Linked DNA regions of Homo sapiens. The protein of the gene in region 1 interacts with the protein of each later gene in a biochemical or structural test. Each region holds a gene or a part of one and is shown on either strand. Other genes may lie near its edges. The genes, in order: UBE2R2, RBX1, PRKN and CTNNB1.

Region 1 (5,309 bases):
GTAGCAAGCTACCGAGCCTTTAGTGAACACCAGTTGGCTGATTCTCTGCATCCCTAAAATTCTTCCTTTTCAGGTTGGCTAACTCTCACTACTCACCAGATCTGATAATACAGACTGACTTAGACTCTTGAAGGTAACTGGAGTCCCTTATTCTTCAAGTTACAAAAGTGCTCCATTTGCCACTTTATGTTATAAATATGTCCATTGAGGTGCTGAACAATAGTCTTGAGTACACGTGGTTATGGAGAAGAAAACCAAATACGTGAATATGGAATCACTTTCAGATGCCAGTGAGAGGCAGCAGATAAGACTCCAAAACAGGATGAGATGAACCCTATGCCATCTCCACTGCTGTCTTACTACAGCCACCCATAAACTGGACATGGAGCCCAGAACCCTTAGACAGTTGCTGGCCCTAGATAATTTAGCAGCAGAGAGGTACAAGAAGGAAAATAGTTGCCCATTTCCACTACATCTTGTATCTTCCCTCTTAATATTTCAGTGCCATAAATGACCTGTTAGAAAATATAACAGTTTACTACTTTAAAACCTCCCTTGTCTCACAACCAAGTGAACACAGAAACAAAAGGGATAAGCGAAAGTATTCCACATCTGCTCATTAGGTAGTGCTTTCCTGACTTCCGCTCAGAGTTCTGAGCACCACCAGGTATTCCAGACAGGTGAGGTTCCAAAAAGTGTACAAAACATCCCACAGCCCCCGAAAACACCAATAAGATCAAAATGTTGAAGGACTACCCAATGATTACATAGAACTAAGTGATAAAAAGTCTAAGAAGGTAAACAATTTCCAACCCAAATACCTTGTAGAGCTGTGTGAAGATGTTAGGTGTAACTCCACATAACTAGTTGTAGTTGGGAAGCTTCTAAACAAAGCAGCATAAAAGCAGGGAAAACAATCTTGATTTGAGTATGGGGAATGTCCCTAAATTGTGGCTCAGGTGGCCTGGGGACTCAAGTGTGAGGAAACAAAATGATGCTAGTACCCAAAGTAACAAAGGCAGTTTCAGATGGGCAGATAAGTATAAAAGGAATCCTCTGCCTCCAAAAGACTGGATTACATGAGAAGTAGGCCTATTTTAAAAGAAAAAATGTTCATAATACTTTAAGCTGAGATAAGGCAAATGACATCATTTGCGTGTAAATGCAAGAGAAGTAAAGGATAAAAAGCCTGAATTCCCATGGGTGGTGGCAATACATTATCCAGCCAAGCAGCATAAAAATGCAATGAGGAAAATCTTGTTTGGGGCTTTGTATTTGAGGAAAGGGGAAGCTTATTTTCTCAAATAGGGAGAGGGTGTAAGCATTTGATTCAACGTTCAACCAGCAAAACCAAGAATCACCAGTATTATAGCTACCACTTCCTCTAATCTAGGGTTATTACTCGTCCTGAAAATCCATGCACCAGAATCATTATTAAAGTACAACTGGGGATTTTTTTGGATGCAATTTTTTCAACAAATCATCCAAAATATTTTTTAAAAACTTTTATACACATTGTCTAATTATAATGTCAAAATAATGTGCTACAATTACTTCTGAAGACGTAGCACCCTCAAACATACTCTTGAGTAATATAGAATACATAAAACTCAGACTTTTTTTTTTTTTGAGACAGCGTTTCACTCTTGTTGCCCAGGCTGGAGTGCAGTGGCACGATCCTGGCTCACCGCAACCTCCGCCTCCCAGGTTCAAGCAATTCTCCTGCCTCAGCCTCCCGAGTAGCTGGGATTACAGGCAGGTGCCACCATGCCCAGCTAATTTTGTATTTTTAGTAGAGACAGGGTTTCTTCATGTTGGTCAGGCTAGTCTTGAACTCCCGACCTCAGGTGATCTGCCCACCTTGGCCTCCCAAAGTGCTGGGATTACAGGCGTGAGCCACTGCGCCCGGCCTACAACTCAGAATTTTTAATACTAATTTAAAATTGAGTCTATCGAGATAATTCATGTATACATAATTTGCTACGTAGGACACTTTTCCCCTCAAAAAAAGAAAGCGTATTCTCAATTACAGAATATCTCAAAAACAGCTCAAAACAATTATTTTAGTTCTTTTCATGTATTTAGAACCCAAGATAAATTATGTACTACTTGAACTGGTTACGATACAGGCATCTAGCAATTATGTCTCCCTGTAGCAAAATGAAATAAATATGAGGAACTAAGAAATGTGTTTCTCTTCTAATAGATAGCAAATGACTGCTTCACATTAGACCCAAAAAATTCCTTGAAAATAATAGCTGCAACCCAAGCCAGCCAGGTAATATCCACCATTCTAGTAGGTTTACATGCATTATTCACTTAAATTCTATCAACAACCTACTGAGGTAGGTATTATTCTTGTATAGATAAGAGATTCAGAAGGCGGGTGTAGTGTGAGCACCTGTAATCCCAACACTTTGGGAGGCTGAGGCAGGGGCATCACTTGAGCCCATGGGTTTCAGACCAGCCTGGGCAACATGGTGAGACCCCATCTTTACAAAAAACTTAAAAATTAGTCCAGGTGCTTTGGGGCACACCTATAATCTGAGCATTCTGGGAGGCCAAGTGGATTGCTTGAGCCCAGTAGTTTGAGACTGGCCTGGGAAACAAAGCAAAACCCCATCTCTCTACAAAAAAAATACAAAATCTTGAGCAGACACCGTGATGCATGCCTGTGGTCCCAGCTACCCAAGAGACTAAAGTGGAAGGATTGCTCAAGCCCGGGAGGTTGAGGCTGTGCTGAGCCGTGACCGCGCCGCTTCATTCCAGCCTGGGCGACAGAGCAAGATCCTGTCTTAAAAAAAAAAAAAAAAAAAGAAATATGAGAAAAAAACATTCAGAGGGATGATGGTTGTCAAGGTGAGGTGTAAAAACACATTTATTTGAATTTAGAAAGAAAGTAACATTTTTTGTCTTAAAAAATATATTGGTAAGATATGCTGAAATCTTTAATATATCTATTTTCTCAACTCTTTCTAAATAAATTGGATGGAACAAGGTACCCAAAGGAATGAGTAACAAACATAATCAACAGTCATTTGACACATCTTGAAGAGCTTCTATTACAAGTCAGGAAGCTTCCAATTCTTCACTTTTGATAAACCTGGAGATTCTAATCAAGTTATTAGTTTTTGTATCAGTAAAAATGTTTAACAAATGATTGAATAAACAAATAAAGGGGAAGAATAGATCAATCCATGCAGAAGAATTCAAAATAATTTATATAGATACCCTGGCTTCAAGGAGGTATAGCCACCCTCTCCTTAGTTGTGGGCTATGCATATTCCTTCCAAGGAGTACAGAATGAAAAGTTCAGGAAAGAGCAACTTTACAGTGGAGAAAAGCTAAAAATATTATTTCAGGCAGGTGATGAAAGGTATCCCATCAACAGGGATAAGCCACACTGATAGTAAATACTTCAGATATGACATAATGAAAATGGCACATTACTTCTCTGGTCTTTCTCTCCCAAACCTATAACCCTAGACTAATCATGAGAAAACACATAAGAAAAATCTCAACTGGGGGACATTGCACAAAATACCTGATCAGTACCCCCCAAAATTGTCATCAAAAACAAGAAAATTTATAATCAAGAGTTGCTTAATAGCTAGGTATGGTGGCATACACCTATAGTCACAGCTACTTGGGAGGCTGAGGTGAAAGGCTCACTTGAGCCCAGGAGGTCGAGGCTGCAGTGACCTGTGATCACACCGCTGCACACCAGTCTGGGTGACGGGAAGACACTGTCTCAAAGACAAGAGACAGAGACACAGACAGAAACAGAGAGAGAGAGAGAGACAGAGACAGAGAGAGAGAGGAGTTGCCCATGAAGACATGACTATTAAATATAATGTGATGAGCAGGGCACAGTGGCTCATGCCTATAATCCCAGCGCTTTGGGAGGCCAAGTGGGGAGGACTGCTTGAGGCCAGGAGTTTGAGACCAGCTGGGCAACTTAGTGAGACCCCATCTCTACAAAAAATTTAAATACATATATGTATACACGTACATATATAGATATATATTTATATGTATGAAATATTTTGGAGCAAAACAACGACAGGTAAAAACAAAGGAAATGTGAAAGCGTATGGACTTCAGTTACTTATAATGAATTAACATTGTTTATTAACTGCAACCAATGAATGACACTAATGTTAGGTGGTAATAAAGAACCAGAGTAGAACTAGGATAAGTTAAGAGTAGGGATTCAGGCTTGAAAATCTATTCCTAAGTGAACATAGGGAAATGAGAATCATATACATTATTGTTTAGTAAATACAGCTCTTCAAAATGACGCATACATATTTCTTAAAGCTCTAGCTAAAGACAAAGAAACTGAATATAAGAAAGATGATTTTTTACATGTTAAAAGACAATACATAATTTTATTTTACTAGGAGCAAAGACAATAAGGAGATTAAGAATAACTCCAAAACCAGATTCCTCCTTACCTCACATTCTGAGTAGGATTCCACCTTTCAGAAGGCAGTTCTCCACTCTGTGGGTCATCTACAGGCGGATGAAGAATCGAAATGCATACATCTCCATTCTACAAGACACAAACATTACATTCAGTAAATACTCAAAAAGTGATGTACAAAAAGGGACATCGGTTCTAAAGTTTCCTTTATTCCTAGAAACTGTTTCTTCATCAAAGGAGAAAACAATTCTGCTTTTTATGTTCAACATCAAAGATAAATAATAATTAAGCATTTTAAAAGTATTTATTTTGACCAATCTCCAAGGTATATTTTCTAGTGAGAAGACTTACTATTCCTATAGAACAATCCTGATGAAACAAACGATCCCTATGTTTACTTAGGAACATTAAAATATAATATTTATTTCGACCAATCTCCAAGGTATATTTTCTAGTGAGAAGACTTACTATTCCTATAGTACAATCCTGATAAAAAATTGACTGGGGCTGGGCGCGGTGTCTCACGCCTGTAATCCTAGCACTTGGGAGGCCAAGGCGGGTGGACCACCTGAGGTCAGGAGTTTGAGACCAGCATGGCGAAACCCCATCTCTACCAAAAATACAAAAATTGGCTGGGCGCGGTGGCTCACGCCTGTAATCCCAGCACTTTGGGAGACCAAGGTGGGCAGATCACAAGGTCAGGAGTTCGAGACCAGCCTGAACAACATGGTGAAACCCCGTCTCTACTAAAAATACAAAAATTAGCCGGGCGTGGTAGCACTCCCCTGTAATCCCAGCTACTCAGGAGGCTGGGGCAGGAGAATCGCTTGAACCTGGGAGGTGGGGGTTGCAGGGAGCCAAGATCGCGCCAATGCACTCCATC
Region 2 (5,309 bases), on another chromosome or scaffold:
TCCCAAAGTGCTGGGATTACAGGCGTGAGCCACCGTGCCTGGCCAGGGACTGACTTTTTAAAAAATATAAAAAATGTTAAAAACATGCAAACAAATAAAAAAAGAAAAGAAAAAAGTTAAGGTACATTTACATAAAGAAATACTCTGCAACCATTAGAAATGAGGTAGTTTGTTATTTGTGGAAATGGAAAATCTCCAAAATGTACAAAATGAAAAAAAAAAAAAAGGTGAATTACTGTATAGGATACTCACTTTTATGTTAACAAAAATATATATATACACACAACCATGTAAATACCGGGACATATAAGAGATAGTCAGAAAATCTCCTAAGAAGCTGTCCTGTTGCTGATGGCTAGCTCCAGCAAGCCGGAGCAGGGGCCTACAGTGGGAAATTCATATTCTGTGGTATACCCTTTCAACCATTTAAATTTTTAAAAGTTTACCAGGTCATGTTTTATTTATATAACAATAAAATCTAATCAGGATAGCCATAAATGCTATATCAGAATTAATCACTGTGAAATAAACCAGTGAAATATGATAAGTGGATACAAGTCTAGCCCAAAGCTACCTGACATTAGGTAGTCCATGGAGCCTCATTAGGATGTAATTCTGGAAATATTTAAGAGTTCATAGATTATCACATTTTCTACTTTCACAGACCGTAGAAGGTTGGGAAACCTGCCGGGCACGGTGGCTCACACCTGTAATCCCAGCACTTTGGGAGACCGAGGCAGGCAGATCAGTTGAGATCAGGAGTTCAAGACCAGCCTGGCCAACATGGTGAAACCCAATCTCTACGAAAAATACAAAAATTAGCTGTGCATGGTGGCACACACTTGTAATCCCAGCCACTTGCTAGGCTGAGGTGGGAGGATCGCTTGAATCTGGGAGGTGGACGTTGCAGTGAGCCAAGATAGCACCACTGCACTCCAGCCTGGGCAACAAAGCGAGACTCCGTCTCAAAAAAAAAAAAAAAAAAAAAAAGGTTGGGAAACCCTAGGCTGCAAATGTCTAATGTTGGCTAATCCTTTGTGCATTTTCCATATAGATAAGTCCTAGCTTAAGTAACCAAAAACTAGTTTTAAAAAAAACAAGGCATGTATCATGTCTCCATCCCCCAAGACCACGCTCCTTTCAGCCTGAGGCAAGTCAAAAAGCCCCGTCAAAACAACCAAAGATACCTACTTTTGGAATTCCCACTCTCTGTTGTCCAATGGACACACCTGTCGTGTTTTGAGCCAGCGAGAGATGCAGTGGAAGTGAAAAGCATGCTGAAAGAAAACATATATTTTATTAAAAATAACTCTATGCAGGCTCAGCCATCGAGCGACAACAGGTCCCACAGGGTAGTGGCATGGGTGACATATAGTGGGCAAGAAAAGAAAAGAAGACAACGAGAGGCAAAAGTTCAACAACTGATTATATCTTGGTTAGATGCAAGGGTATTTCCAACAAAGCATTTGTTAGAAATGTCATTACTACTAAAGGAAATCATTCAGGAAGCACAGGAGTATGTGCCAGCACTGAGCTCTCTTCTATTTAAGAGAACGTGGAATGTGGCTCCTTGGTCCCATTCAGCCTGTAAGGGGATACTTCCACTTTCTTTGGGAAAGGAGGCCCCTCATCAATGCAGATTTCAAATATCCCCATTCTGGGTCTCTAGCTTCCCTCCCACCCTCCTGCCCCTGGAGAATGCGACCTGTAGGAGCAGAGCCTTCTCCCCAGCCCTTGGTAGAGAAGTGCATGGTCACTGCCGCCCACCCAGAACTGAGACGGGCACTTCCCCAACCTCCCCACACCCAGCTCAGCTCTGGTCAAAGAAACTTTATTTCTAGATTTATTCACAGACATATTGATATTACAAGAGCTCAGTACTTCACGTGCCTTTAATGGGTGAGGGACTTTGTCTTAGGGAATGAGATAAAAGAAAATTGGGGTAAAAGGAAGTATTCTTATGAGGGACAAACGGCACACAAGCAGCCTAAAGAGCATCAAAAGGCTTATTTCATAATCAAGACAAGAAGTAAAAAGACAAGAGTATCAAGAACACTGGTAACTGACAGGGAGCTAGAAGTCTGCTTAGATTTGGGAAAAGGACAATCTGCATGCAGTTTTTTGGCGTGGGCTCATGACATGCAGATGCTAATCACAATGCTTCTGCAATGAGCACTTCTCCCCCTGCTCATGTGCGTATTAGGACAGACGCAGCAAGTGCTTCCTTCATTTCGTCTGTGATTGGTGCACTGTGGTGGGGCACGGGCAGAAATTACTCACCCTAACAAAACAACAAAAGCTTTACAAGCTTCATTTAATAACAACTGAAATCTGGTCGGTACGTCTCCCAAAGTATGTATGGAACTTAAGGGATTATATAATATGGATTATTATCTTGTGAAATGTTTTTTGACAAAGACAAAAATATAATTCAGTAACTAAGAGTGGAATCCACAGCTAGTACACTAGGGATACCCAAGAGGACAAATATTCTCTTAGAGTGACAGCCTTTTGGAAGATCCCTTTTCAGCTGACTCTTGTATAACTCACTGTGAAAAAGAGAAAGAGCAAAATTTCCAAAAGGCAGAAAGCAGAGACATTTTTCTTAACCATCAGGTGTTGGGGTCGGGCTCACCGAAGGGTATTCGACAGCTTCTCCCTCTCCCACCTCACCCACTGAGCACTTTGCAGCAGTACGGTGTCCTGGTAGAGCCCAACTAAGTCAGAGCATACCACGCGCTGGGGAAAAGGGGGCTGTAAAGGAGGTGTCAGGGAGGTGACAGCACCCCTGAACATTTACTAAGATGTATTAATGGATATATTTAGCGGTCAAAGTACAATTTACAGAAGATAAATTTATAGTACTTGACAGTTTACAGAAGATGTTGACATGTATTACCTCATTTGAGGCCTCACATCAACCCTGGCAGGCAAGCATGACAGATATTTTTATCTTCATTTTACAGACAGGAAACTGAAACCCAGACAAGTGACTTGCCTAATTCATGGAGCTGGTTTGTAGAAGACCCAGAACTAGAACCCAGGACTAATCCAGAGCCTTCTGCCACACCATGCTGGCTCTCTTCTACGGCAGGCTCTCTCAGAGAATCTCTCCTTAGCCAAATTTAAGGGGATGTTCACTCTCTTTTCTTTCCACATAAAGGAACATGGTTCTTAGTATATGTCTGTATGCCAGAAAGGGCAAAGAGCCCAATATACTTCCTTTATCCCCATGAACGATTAAAGCTCCCCCATGGCCAACATGGTCTATTGTGAGCCTGGCCAAAGGGTCCCAACAAAGATGGAAGAAGGTGTACCCGAAAGTGCGGGTAGGGGCTGGGCACGGTGGCTCACGCCTGTAATCCCAGCACTTTGGGAGGCCGAGGCTGGCAGATCGCCCCAAGGTCAGGAGTTTAAGACCAGCCTGGCCAACATGGCGAAACCCCATCTCTACTAAAAATACAAAAATTAGCTGGGTGTGGTGGTACACACCTGTAATCCCAGCTACTCGGAAGGCTGAAGCAGGACAATCACTTGAACCCAGGAGATAAAGGTTGCAGTAAGCCGGGACTGCGTCACTGCGCTCCAGCCTGGGCCACATAGTGAGACTCCGTCTCAAAAAAAAAACAAAAAACAAAAAACAAAAAAAAAAACAAAAAACCAGTGTAGGTAGGAAAAAGAGTTGCAACCCAACAGGAAAAACTACTGAGAACACCATCTACACAGTAACACCTCTACCTCAAATTTGTATTTATTTAGATTTTTTTTTTTTTGAGACAGAGTCTCACTTTGTCACCCAGGCTGGAGTGCAGTGGTGTGGTCTCGGCTCACTACAAGCTCCACCTCCCAGGTTCACGCCATTCTCCTGCCTCAGCCTCCCGAGTAGCTGGGACTACAGGCGCCTGCCACCACACCCGGCTAATTTTTTGTATTTTTAGTAGAGACGGGGTTTCACTGTGTTAGCCAGGATGTCTCCATCTGCTGACCTCATGATGCACCCGCCTCGGCCTCCCAGAGTGCTGGGATTACAGGCGTGAGCCACCGCGTCCGGCCTATTTAGATTTTTTTTAACAAGCACTTGTGCTTACTATGTGCCGGGAGTTGTTTAATCACATTTTAACATAAATCATCTAATCCGGATTACAATTTTATGTGGTCCACTATCAGCCCCATTTTATGAGGGAACCCAGGATTGGAGACGTTAAATGCCTTGCCTAACGTCACTTAGCAAGTAAGTCACAAAGACAGGGAATGGTGGTCTGACTCTAGAATCTCTTATCCCTGTGTCATGCTGGGAACTGTGAGTATTCTGTCCCCATGACACAGGAGGCCCTGACAAGACAATTTTAGCTCATGTGACTGGGACTTTACAGCTTAAAGAATGAATTTTTAACACATGCTAGAACTAACATATTTGATATTTGTTATCCTTCACAGCTGTCACACTCTTGGAAGGCCATTCAGTCCAATAAAGCTACACAAAACATTTCTGGCATAAGCCATGTTAAAAAATAATCTTATCTCAGTACATACGCCACACTTAAAACACACATACACAGAGACTTCAACACTCAATTTACTCATCAAACTTAGTTCCATTAGACACCTGGTCTTTAAAAAAGCCTGTTTCAAAGGTACAAAGTTCTACCACGAGAATATTCCAAAGGGTGCATGTAGGTTTTGAAGGCAATTCCCATAGATGAAGCCCCAAAATACTGCTAACAAAATTGGGTCCACTTTATAATTAAGACAAATAAGTGCCTCTTTGCAGTAACTGTAATTTTTACCCTGTAACAGGTGAATAGTATTATGATTTAAAATCTTTTTTACTATTTGTATACCTTTTGGGAGAAAGGTGGACTAGTCATTTTTTTCCCTAGTTATTTTCAAGACTAGCAAAGCAGGAAAAGTGGAAATATGTTTACAAGCCATGCTGACAGGTAAAGATGCTTCCTTACGTTACAGACTCCCCATGCGACAGTACACTCTTCTGAAGTAGCGGACGCCTGGTTAGCTTGACATTCTATGCCTGTGGGAACAAGAGCAACAGGATCACTGGACCTTGGGAGCAGCAACGTTTCAATCTATAGCAGCCAAAACAATTCTCAAGTGGTTAATTAGCCATAATTGTTTTTTAATGAATGTGGGAAAGGAAGAACAGAGAAGACAGAGATAACAGTATGCTTTCTGACGATTTCCTATCCTTGTTTAAAAAGAGTAACAAATGGGAAATGCACATCTCACTCCCGTTGCCCAGGCTACAGTGCAGTGGCATGAGCATGGCTCACTGCAGCCTTGACTTCCTGGGC
Region 3 (5,309 bases), on another chromosome or scaffold:
AAATTACCCAGCTGCAATGCACTATGGGAGTCCAGGAGAATATTCACACCTTCTTTTGCCACCTGAGAAAACTACCTTGAAAAGTGAGTTATGTCCTTGGCTAGCTTCATCAACTAGTCCATACACCCTACCCGCCTGCGCGCGCGCGCACGCACACACACACGCGCACACACACACACACACACACAGACTCCTCATGTGTAACACTACTGCATTACCTTTAAGTGACCTCACAATAGGCAAAAATCAAGTTGTAGCTCTCTGTCATTCTTCCTTCATAAGGAAGTACCTAACCATACGTTCAAATGGTGAAGCATTACTGGTAACTGTGGTGGCTGAATAATGCCTCCTTGTCCCTGAAACCTACGACTGTTTCCCGATATGACAAAAGGGACTTTGCAGATGTGATTAAGGATCTGGAGACGAAGAGGCTATCCTGGTGGCTCCTGAATGTAACCCCATGTGTTCTTTTAAGAGGAAGGCAGAGCAAGATTTGATGGCAGTAAAGGAGAAGGCAATGTGACCACAGCAGCAGAGACTGGAGTGATGTGGCCAGGAGCCAAGGAATGCCAGCAGCCTCCAGAAGTGAAAGAGGAGTCTCCACAGGAGCTTCTATTAATGGAAGGGGCTAGCCCAGCGAACACCTTGATTTTAGTCCCTTTTAGTCACTTTGGGGCTGGGCACAGTGGCTCACACCTGTAATCTGACAACTTTGGGAGACTGAGGTGGGAAGATGACTTGAGCCCAAGAGTTCAAGACTAGTCTGGGCAACATAGCAAGATCCTGTCTCTACAAAAAATAAAAAATAAAAAAATTAGCCAGGCAGGTTGGCATGCACCTATAGTCCCAGCTATTCGGGAAGTTGAGCCCAGGAATTCAAGGTTGCAGTGAGCTGTGTTTGTGCCACTGCACTCCAGTCTGAGTGACAGAGGGAGATCTTGTCTCAAAAAAAAAAAAAAAAAAAAGTCATTTTGGACTTTGGGCCTCCAGAACTGTAAGAAAATAAATTTGTGTTTAAAAGTCACTAAACTTGTGGTAATTCGTTACAGCAACAACAGGAACTACACAAAAACTAATACAGTAATCTGGCCATGCCCCGATAGTGTATAATATTAAAGAAAGTGAAATTATGGTTCTAATGTTTGTTTTCCTGAAAACACTACTTTTATGACCAGAACATGAGCATAGTATGCTACCATTGAAAATTTATCTGACATAATTTGACACAAAAGTAGAATCCGTTTTAAATGTATTACCACAATGCATTTGTCCTGAAGATTGTGTTTATAACACATTGCTTTTCAGTATTTCCAAAACATTATACGCTTAACGCTGAAGATCTGAAAAACACAATCATAATAAAAGAAAACATCCCACAACCCAAAGATATAATTTGCCGGTATACTTCCTGATATTTTTACATATACAAATGGCCCCTAATGCTATCTAGTTTCCAGTTATGGTAACTAAATGGTCACATTAACACTTTTTAAAAAAGATCTTTCCCAATTATTAAGAACTCACACATATTTGTCCATCTTAGATCACTTAATCATCCTATCATCACTGTTTTAAGACAAAAAAAATCTTATTACTTCTAGGAACTTCATCTCAAATAGCATCCCCATCCCCTCTCTGACTGACTTTACCTGTATAACTTGCATTCTATTAAGCATAAGATGATTAAATTGGCTGCAAAAGCCAGAAGGGACTTTTAATGAATTTACACACTAAGAATTGTGACAACTATGTCTTGATCCAATATGAAAGTTTCTTAGATGTTGAATCTCCATTAAAAATTATTCCAGAGGCCAGGCGCGGTGGCTCATGCCTGTAATCTCAGCACTTTGGGAGGCCGAGACAGGTGGATCACGAGGTCAGGAGATCGAGACCATCCTGACTAACACGGTGATACCCCGTCTATACTAAAAATACAAAAAAAATTAGCTGGGCATGGTGGCAGGCGCCTGTAGTCCCAGCTACTCGGGAGGCTGAGGCAGGAGAATGGCGTGAACCTGGGAGGCGGAGCTTACAGTGAGCCGCGATCACGCCACTGCACTCCAGCCTGGGCAACACAGCAAGACTCCGTCTCAAAAAAAAAAAAATTTATTCCAGAACTGTCCCCCACAAAACAAAATAGAGTTCTAAAATGGGCAACAATGCCCAGAAATTGCCAGAACATAAAAAACAAGCACAGAGACTTGGTATAAAACTCAAGACACTGAGAATAAGATTATTTGGTGACTTCTTTGAAATCAAGATGATATAAAAGTCAATACCTATGTCAGAAGCTCTGCATGTAGTGAGACACGGCAGATGCCACACACACATACACACACACACACACGAGAAAGGGACAATGAATAATGGAGAAAACTCTAGAGAGGGACAAAAGGAAGAAATTCCAATTCCAATCATAGGTTGAGCATCTCACAGATTCCTAAATGAACAAGAGTGGAAAGCCCACAACAGATCTCTACGAAATATCACTCTCTGTATCATATGATTATGTCTAAATTGACTGCCCAATAAAACACATATACTTCCCATCTGATCCTATGAATTCAGACATATTCATGTAAAAACGTCTTTATATATTGTCACATGTAATTATACAAATTTGGTGAATATCAACTGGATCATGCAGTCTACATTTGTCTGTGGTCAGGAGCCCAGAGAAGCAGCACCTCAGAGAACATGACCTCACTTGTGCTTAAATCTGTACCTCTCACACTCTGGGAACTCACCAGAGAGCTATAAAGGACTTTCAGGAGAAAGGAGGTCGAATTTCAAGGGTGGAGAGAAGACCCAGGGCACAGGGAATATTATTCTTAAATCTGTCTAATTCTCCAAGGAGCAAACCTAACTTGCCCCCATCCTCTAGCTGCCCAGAGTTCATCATTCCTCAATTTTGTTTCAATGGAAAAAAAAAATTGTAATCAGGACTGGATTTGCCTGGAAGGAAAATGCAGAGCCAGAGACTACAAAGATTTCCATTGCAGACAATTCCCAATCTAGGGAATGTCTCCAGTAGGAGCTGTGGTGAAGCCTGGTCTGTTCCGGTCAGGCCACTCCTGTGATAACCCTCAGAAACATTACAACCCACAGTCAAGCCCTGTGGCAACAAGTAAGGAAGAAATTCACCTGTTGTTCAGACAACAGCTGCTCCTTTGAGCTGAAGAATGAAATATTAAATTCCAGCTTCTGAGAAAATCAAGGAATGTGGGTAAGAAAAAAATGAGGGGACAGAAAAGAGGGAGTGCAGGTAGATGTCAAAAAAAAAAAAAAAAAAAAAAAAACTAAAGGTTGACCTCAGAAACACAGATATTACAAATGTTCCTTCCTATTTCTCCATTTTATTAATACGAGCAAGTTTCAGGTGTCTACTTCCTATCATTTCATGATCTGGAAAATGGATCTACTCTGCGGGTACAATAAGCTTTAAAAATGACTACGCAGTTACAGAGGGCTTCATCACAAGATCTTATTTATGCACTGAAACTCCAAAAATATCTCACAATAGGAGTAACTGGCGTATTCAACAATTATGTAAATAAATAATAAAAAGTCTCAATCAGGACACCAATATTAACTCCCTAATCACCAATTTTCCCCCTCATTTGATGAGGGTAGGAGTAGAGATGTGCAAAATGGGTGAGGCTGCTAACTATTGAACATTCTCTCCTCCAAAGTTAAGGGCTCTCATGTGAAACTTTATGGGGGCCTCTGTTCAGGTCTTACAGTAAAAGTAAATTGGAGAGAATCATCAAGAAGCCATCAATACTCTTAAAAATACACACATCTGTCCATAGATGGTCTTTTTTTTTTTTTTTTTTTTTTTGAGACGGAGTCTCGCTCTGTCGCCCAGGCCGGACTGCGGACTGCAGTGGCGCAATCTCGGCTCACTGCAAGCTCCGCTTCCCGGGTTCACGCCATTCTCCTGCCTCAGCCTCCCGAGTAGCTGGGACTACAGGCGCCCGCCACCGCGCCCGGCTAATTTTTTGTATTTTTAGTAGAGACGGGGTTTCACCTTGTTAGCCAGGATGGTCTCGATCTCCTGACCTCATGATCCACCCGCCTCGGCCTCCCAAGGTGCTGGGATTACAGGCGTGAGCCACCGCGCCCGGCCCATAGATGGTCTTAATATGTGCCTAGGTATATGAGTCATGCAGATATCTAAGAGGAAGAAACTATTCTGCACTATTCTGGGTGACACGATATCCACAGCTCTGATGACATTGTTCTCTCCACACAGAGAAGAAACTATAAATAGAACCCTAAGCATCATGTTCCACATATCAAAGAAGGAGATACAAACTATTTTTGGAATACAAATAAAGCTTTAGTAACATGAAATAAAACACCTGTCAATAAGAGACATTAATCTATTCTACAAAAATAAGAACTTTTTAAAAAGAAATATGGCCTTTAATCAGAGATGATGTAATGACATATCAAATCAATGTCAACACCCTGAGAAAAGCCATCTCCTACTGCACAATTACCCTGCCATTCTCAGTCGAAGACTGTCCTCTATTAAACATTATCTGGACTTCTTTCCTTTGTTTTATGGAGTGAGTTTATAAACGCTTGTTCTCCGTAACTAGTGATTTCAAGTATTCTGTTTTATCTAAGAAGTACAATGAAGGTCATGAGAAGTCCTCTATTAACACTTTATCTGGACTTGCTGGCACTAGTGTAACTATTTTCTACAACGTTCTATTTCATAACTTTCTAGTACTGCCACAGACATCTTTCTAAAATACAACCTGTTCATAATGCTCTTTTGTAGATAATGGTTCAGTGACTCCTCCCTATCGCCAACTTTAAACCTACCTCCTTGACAAAGCTTATCTGGTGTGCCTGCAGCCTCACCAGATACCTTTCATTCTATTCTCTTCTCTCCCCTCCATGCCTGTCTAGAAGGCCGCCTTCACCTAGTTAACTCCTACTTGTCCTGCAGGAAAACTGGAATGGCTCCACTGGGAAACAGCTGGATCTTCCAAGCTCTATAGGCTGAGTTTTCCAGTACTTCCTTGTATAAACCTATATTATGATACCCACCTTTCAGGTTTGTAAATCTTTACTTTTCTGTACCCCTTCTAGACTATGAACAAGGACCTGATGAAGGGTAGTTACTAAAATGTTGGCTGACTCTAAAGGAGGTGCTAATTGCCTCACACTAAAAAGAGGGTAAGAGGTGACATGGAAAATTTCACATAAAGTTGGTGCCATTGGAACTGGATCTTGAGTGATGAACAGTAGTTTTGAGATGTTCAACAGAAAGAAAGGGCATTCAGATCAACGAG
Region 4 (5,309 bases), on another chromosome or scaffold:
GAATTTGAGTGGAATGCTTTAAAAGGACAAGTTGGATAGGGCCCCAGTATGGGGGTCTGAGTGATGGGGTCCAGGAATACATTTAGGTCCAATGGCAAGCTGGCTGAAATTCTTGTATAATAAAATAGGTTGGTAATATGGCTCTTCTCAGACATGTGATCAAGATTCCTTGACTAACAAGATATATATATATATCTTTCTAGCTCATCATACTGGCTAGTGGTGGACCCCAAGCTTTAGTAAATATAATGAGGACCTATACTTACGAAAAACTACTGTGGACCACAAGCAGAGTGCTGAAGGTGCTATCTGTCTGCTCTAGTAATAAGCCGGCTATTGTAGAAGCTGGTAAGTATATGTATCTATTCTGAGTCTTGTGTATAGCATCTGCAGTTCTAATTAGATTACTTTTCTTAGGAAAAGGTGGTAGAACTTTAACTACTGAAAATAAATGGTCCTATTCAGTTTGCAGCCAAGATTTACATTCAGAGTACCTGTCATCTGGATTGTAGCTAAATATTTAAGGCTAGTTTAGGTAGAGTTCTTATTATCCATCAAAAATGATGGCATATGTTTTGCTTAATAAAATTTGTTTGTAATTTCAGTTTTGAGTAAACCTAAGATTTGCTAACAGAGCTGTGAATTTATAGGAGAAAAGACAAATTCTAATATAGTACAGTTTTATGTAAAGTGATTGCTTTATTAGTAGATGCTCATGAGCAGTTTTTGTTTTGTTTTAACTTTTAGGTTCCGGGTAATGTGCAGGCTTGTTATATAGGTAAATTGCATGTCACAGGGGTTTCGTGTGCAGATTATTTTGTCACCCAGGCAGTAAGTATTGTACCCAATAGGTAGTTTTTCAGTTCTTTACCTCCCACCCGTAAGTAGGCCCCAGTGTCTGTTGTTCCCTTCTTTGTGCCCGTGTGTACTCAGTGTTTACCTCCCACTTATAAGTGAGAACATGTGGTATTTGGTTTTCTATTCCTATGTTAGTTTGCTTAGGATAATGGCCTCCAGCTCCATCCATGTTGCTGAGGAAGACATCTTGGTATTTTTTTATGGCTGCTTAGTATTCCATAGTATATATGTACCACATTTTCTTTATCTAGTCTACCATTGATGGGCATTTAGGTTAATTCCATATCTTTGCTATTGTGAATAATGCTGCAGTGAACATATGCATGCATGTGTCTTTATGGTAAAAAGATTTCTTTTTCTTTGGGCATATACCTAATAATAGGATTGCTGGATTGAATGGTAATTCTGTCAGGTTTTTTGAGAAATCACCAAATTGCTTTCCACAATGGCTGAACTAATTTACTTTCCCACCAGCAGTGTATAAGCATTCTCTTTTCTCAGCAACCTCACCAGCATCTGTCATTTTTTGACTTTTTATTAGTAGCCATTCTAACTGGTGTGAGACGGTATCTCATTGTGGTTTTGATTTGCATTTCTCTAATGATCAGTGATGTCGAGCTTTTCTTCATATGTTTCTTGGCCACTTGTATGTCTTCTTTTGAAAAGTGTCTGTTCATGTCCTTTGCCCACTTTTTAATGGGGTTGTTCTTTTTTGCTTGTTAATTTAAGTTTATTGTAAACTCTGGATATTAGACCTTTGTCAGATGCATAGTTTGCCAGTACTTTCTCCCATGCCAGTACTTTCTCCCATTCTGTAGGTTGTCTGTTTACTCTGTTGATTTCTTTTGCTGCGCAGAAGCTCTTTATACTGTCCCATTTGTCAGTTTTTGTTTTTGTTGCAACTTCTCTTGGCATCTTCGTCATGAAATCTTTGCCAGGTCTTATGTCCAGAATGGTATTTCCTAGGTTATCTTGCAGAGTTTTTACAGTTTTAAGTTTTATATTTAAGTCTTTAATCCATTCTGAGTTGATTTTTGTACATCATGTAAGGATGGGGTGCAGTTTCAATCTTGGATGTGGCTAGCCAGTTATCCCAGCACCATTTATTGAATAGGGAGTCCTTTCCCCATTGCTTGTTTTTGTTTACTTGTTAGGTGTGCGGCCTAACTTCTGGGCTTTCTTTTCTGTTCCATTGGTCTCTGTGTCTGTTTGTATACCAGTACCATGCTGTGATTGTAACCTTGTATTAACAGTATAGCTTGAAGTTGGGTAAAGTGATTCCTCCAGTTTTGTTCTTTTTGCTTAGGATTGCCTTGGCTATTCAGGCTCTTTTTTGGGTTCATATGAATTTTTAAATAGTTTTTTTTTAATTATGTGAAGAATGCCATTGGTAGTTTGGTAGGAATAGCATTGAATCTGTGAATTGCTTTGGGCTGTATGGCCATTTTAACAATATTGATTCTTCCTGCCATGAAATAGAATGTTTTTTCATTTGTTGGTGTCATCTCTGATTTCTTTGAGCAGTGTTTTTTGTAATTCTCATTGTAGAGATCTTTCACCTCCCTGGTTAGTTGTATTCCTAGGTATTTTATTCTTTTTGTGGCTTTGGTAAATGGGATTGCATTCTTGATTTGGCTTGCAGCTTGGATGTTGTTGGTGTCTAGAAATGCTTCTGACTTTTGTACATTGATTTTTATATCCTGAAACTTTGCTGAAGTTTATTGGATCAAGGAGCTTTTGGGCAGAGATTATGGGGTTTTCTAGGTATAGAATCATATTGTTTGCAAACAGACTTCCTATTTGGATGCATTTTCTTTCTCTTGCCTGATTATGAGCAGTGTTTTGCCCTGATATTCTGTATTCTCAGTGAATAGATGTCGTCTAAGTATGAGAAACAATTTTTTTCTATTCTGAGTATTTTTAAGAAGGCAACTTATATGTGGTACTTTGTATATTGTGTATGTTGGCAATTGGGGAAAAGAATAGATGGTTTGTACTAGGGCCTCTTGGGTTCTGTGTGTGTGTGTGTGTGTGTGTGTGTGTGTCATGAAAACAGTTACTTTTTAGCTACCAAGCATTTTTTCTCCTTTCAGTAACCCACCTAACAACATTTACTCAGAATTTCAAAGCAAGCTTCAAATCAGTATTGAAAGAAGGAAAAATATAAAGGCATTTAATGGAAGAAAATGTTGGGAATAAAGTATAGGGCTGGCAACACTTACTTTTCTCACTTATTGAGAGTAATTTTACTTGGGAATTTATGAGAGAGAAAGACATTATGATTGCTCCAGGTAACTACTGGCAGAGGAACCATAGTCTTGGGGATAGACAAATGTGGCTGAGTTCATATAGAATGAGGGGATGGGATGTAAATTCTGTCAGCTGTTCCAGCAGTAACCTGTAATGTAGGCTAAAAATACAGATTTTGAGATTTATTTAATCAGAATCCCTGGAGTGTTAATTTTTATATCAAGATCTCATAGTGTTTTATTTGAAGTGACAGGGAGGTCTGTAGATAGCTGGACATGTATGGGACTGGAAGCTTAGGAATCTTTAAGTTCTTCCAGGTTATTCTTATGTTCATTTGTTTATTCTGAAAATAGCATCTAATGTATTTTAAGAAATGGAATAGGCACATAGTATACATTGGGTAACACAACAGATAGGGTCCCCGTGCTTAATTCTTAGTCTTGTGAAGGTGACAAAAATACTTAAAAATATGTGATCCTAAATTAGAATGAGTGTTATGGGAGAAATGACAGCAAATAGTGATGAGAATTAATGGGGAGGGGAATTGTCTAGATGAGAGGGAAAAGGTCTCCTTGAAAAGGGGATGTTAAGTGGGACTGCAGGATGAGAGGGAACCGTCTCTTGTCTATATGAGAAGTGAGGGTTAAACGTTTTCCAGGTAGAGAAAAGGAACACCATGTGCTATGTCTTAGAACCAGGGATATCCAGTCTTTTGGCTTCCCTGGGCCACATTGGAAGAAGAATAATTGTCTTGGGCTACACACCAAATACACTAATGATAGCTGATGAGCTAAAACAAAAAAAAATTGCAAAAGAATCTCATAATGTTTAAGAAAGTTTACGAATTTGTGTTGGGCTACATTCAGAGCTGTCCTAGGCCATGTGGCCCATGGGCTGCAGGTTGGACAAGCTTGCCTTAGAAGGAAAGAGATTGGTCAGGCACGGTGGCTCACGCCTGTAATTCCAGCACTTTGGGAGGCTGAGGTGGGCGGATCATGAGGTCAGGAGATCGAGACCAGCCTGGCTAACACAGTGAAACCCCATCTCTACTAAAAATACAAAAAGTTAGCCGGGCGTGGTGGCAGGCGCCTGTAGTCCCAGCTACTTGGGAGGCTGAGGCAGGAGAATGGTGTGAACCCGGGAGGCGGAGCTTGCAGTGAGCTGAGATAGCGCCACTGCACTTCAGCCTGGGCGACAGAGTGAGACTCTATCTCAAAAAAAAAAAAAAGGGAAAGAGATTGTGGAGATCCAGGTGCTGAAGAGAAGGTCTGCATAAACAGAACTTAGTAATGAGGTGGATGGCCTGGTATGAGGTTGAGGTTAGGTAAGCAGAGCCATAACATGCAGGACTTTCTAGGTTCCTATAAGATAGTTACTACTCATGGAGTTTATTCATGCTTTATTCCAGCTTTGGAGCCATAGATACAGAATACTTTGGTCAGTTTGGAAGGCTAGGTGGGATCCAAATTCTAAACGGTTCCTCAGGGTTATACTAAAGTATTTCTATTATCTTAAAAGGATGCTGAGACACTTTCGATGGTTGTTTATCAATAGCAAAGCATCACAGTGGTGTGTTTAAAATATTAATAATAGCATTGTATAGATTAACAGTTTGAATGACCAAAAGCTAGAAGACCAGACTACTGAGATGTTACAGGCTTTTAGGAATGAAATAGTTTGCTTTTAGAACTCAATAGCAAAGGGCAGATGTCTGAGATGCCTGAAAGAATCATAGAATGTAATAATATAGGAGCTAAGGGAGCAACCAAAAACGGTTTGTGGAGGGGACAACATTGGTACCATGAAGATAAATGGAACCCTCAGAAGGCATCCTTAATTTTTGAACATAATAATTTAAGAAGCTGACTTAAAGTGACTTAAAAGGTCAGTAGGTAGCTGGAAATGTATGATACTAGAATGCAAGAGAGGCAGGCTAGAGATTTGGAAGTTTCCCTCTTAGTATATAGGGGTAAGGGCAGCAGGGAAGGGGAGGTAGAGGTGCCACAGAGTCATCTGTATGGGACTTTTTTTTTTACCCTAGAACTGCTGAATCAGAATGTGTGTGTTTTAAAGTCTCTGTAGGCCATTCTGATGGACATCTGGGGTTAAAATCCATTCTCTTAGAGTTAATAGTTATGTAAAGGGAGGGAATGAAGTCTTAAAGAGGGGAAAGAAGGTAGTCATTTCACAAATACTGAGCA

Evidence for each region.
Region 2: the proteins of UBE2R2 (region 1) and RBX1 form a complex in vitro, tested with the Homo sapiens proteins (10 studies listed by BioGRID).
Region 3: the proteins of UBE2R2 (region 1) and PRKN form a complex in vitro, tested with the Homo sapiens proteins (one study listed by BioGRID).
Region 4: of the proteins of UBE2R2 (region 1) and CTNNB1, one has a biochemical effect on the other in vitro, tested with the Homo sapiens proteins (one study listed by BioGRID).

The regions. Positions count from the first base shown.
Region 1 is NC_000009.12:33,899,420-33,904,728, reverse strand, and holds part of UBE2R2 (ubiquitin-conjugating enzyme E2 R2), read right to left. Parts: intron 4,556-5,309; coding exon 4,458-4,555; intron 1-4,457. UniProt on the Homo sapiens protein: E2 ubiquitin-conjugating enzyme that accepts ubiquitin from an E1 ubiquitin-activating protein, and catalyzes its covalent attachment to other proteins by an E3 ubiquitin-protein ligase complex.
Region 2 is NC_000022.11:40,963,767-40,969,075, reverse strand, and holds part of RBX1 (E3 ubiquitin-protein ligase RBX1), read right to left. Parts: intron 5,030-5,309; coding exon 4,959-5,029; intron 1,278-4,958; coding exon 1,192-1,277; intron 1-1,191. UniProt on the Homo sapiens protein: E3 ubiquitin ligase component of multiple cullin-RING-based E3 ubiquitin-protein ligase (CRLs) complexes which mediate the ubiquitination and subsequent proteasomal degradation of target proteins, including proteins involved in cell cycle progression, signal transduction, transcription and transcription-coupled nucleotide excision repair.
Region 3 is NC_000006.12:162,716,621-162,721,929, forward strand, and holds part of PRKN (E3 ubiquitin-protein ligase parkin), read right to left. Parts: intron 1-5,309. UniProt on the Homo sapiens protein: Functions within a multiprotein E3 ubiquitin ligase complex, catalyzing the covalent attachment of ubiquitin moieties onto substrate proteins. Substrates include SYT11 and VDAC1.
Region 4 is NC_000003.12:41,227,005-41,232,313, forward strand, and holds part of CTNNB1 (catenin beta-1), read left to right. Parts: intron 1-203; coding exon 204-348; intron 349-5,309. UniProt on the Homo sapiens protein: Key downstream component of the canonical Wnt signaling pathway.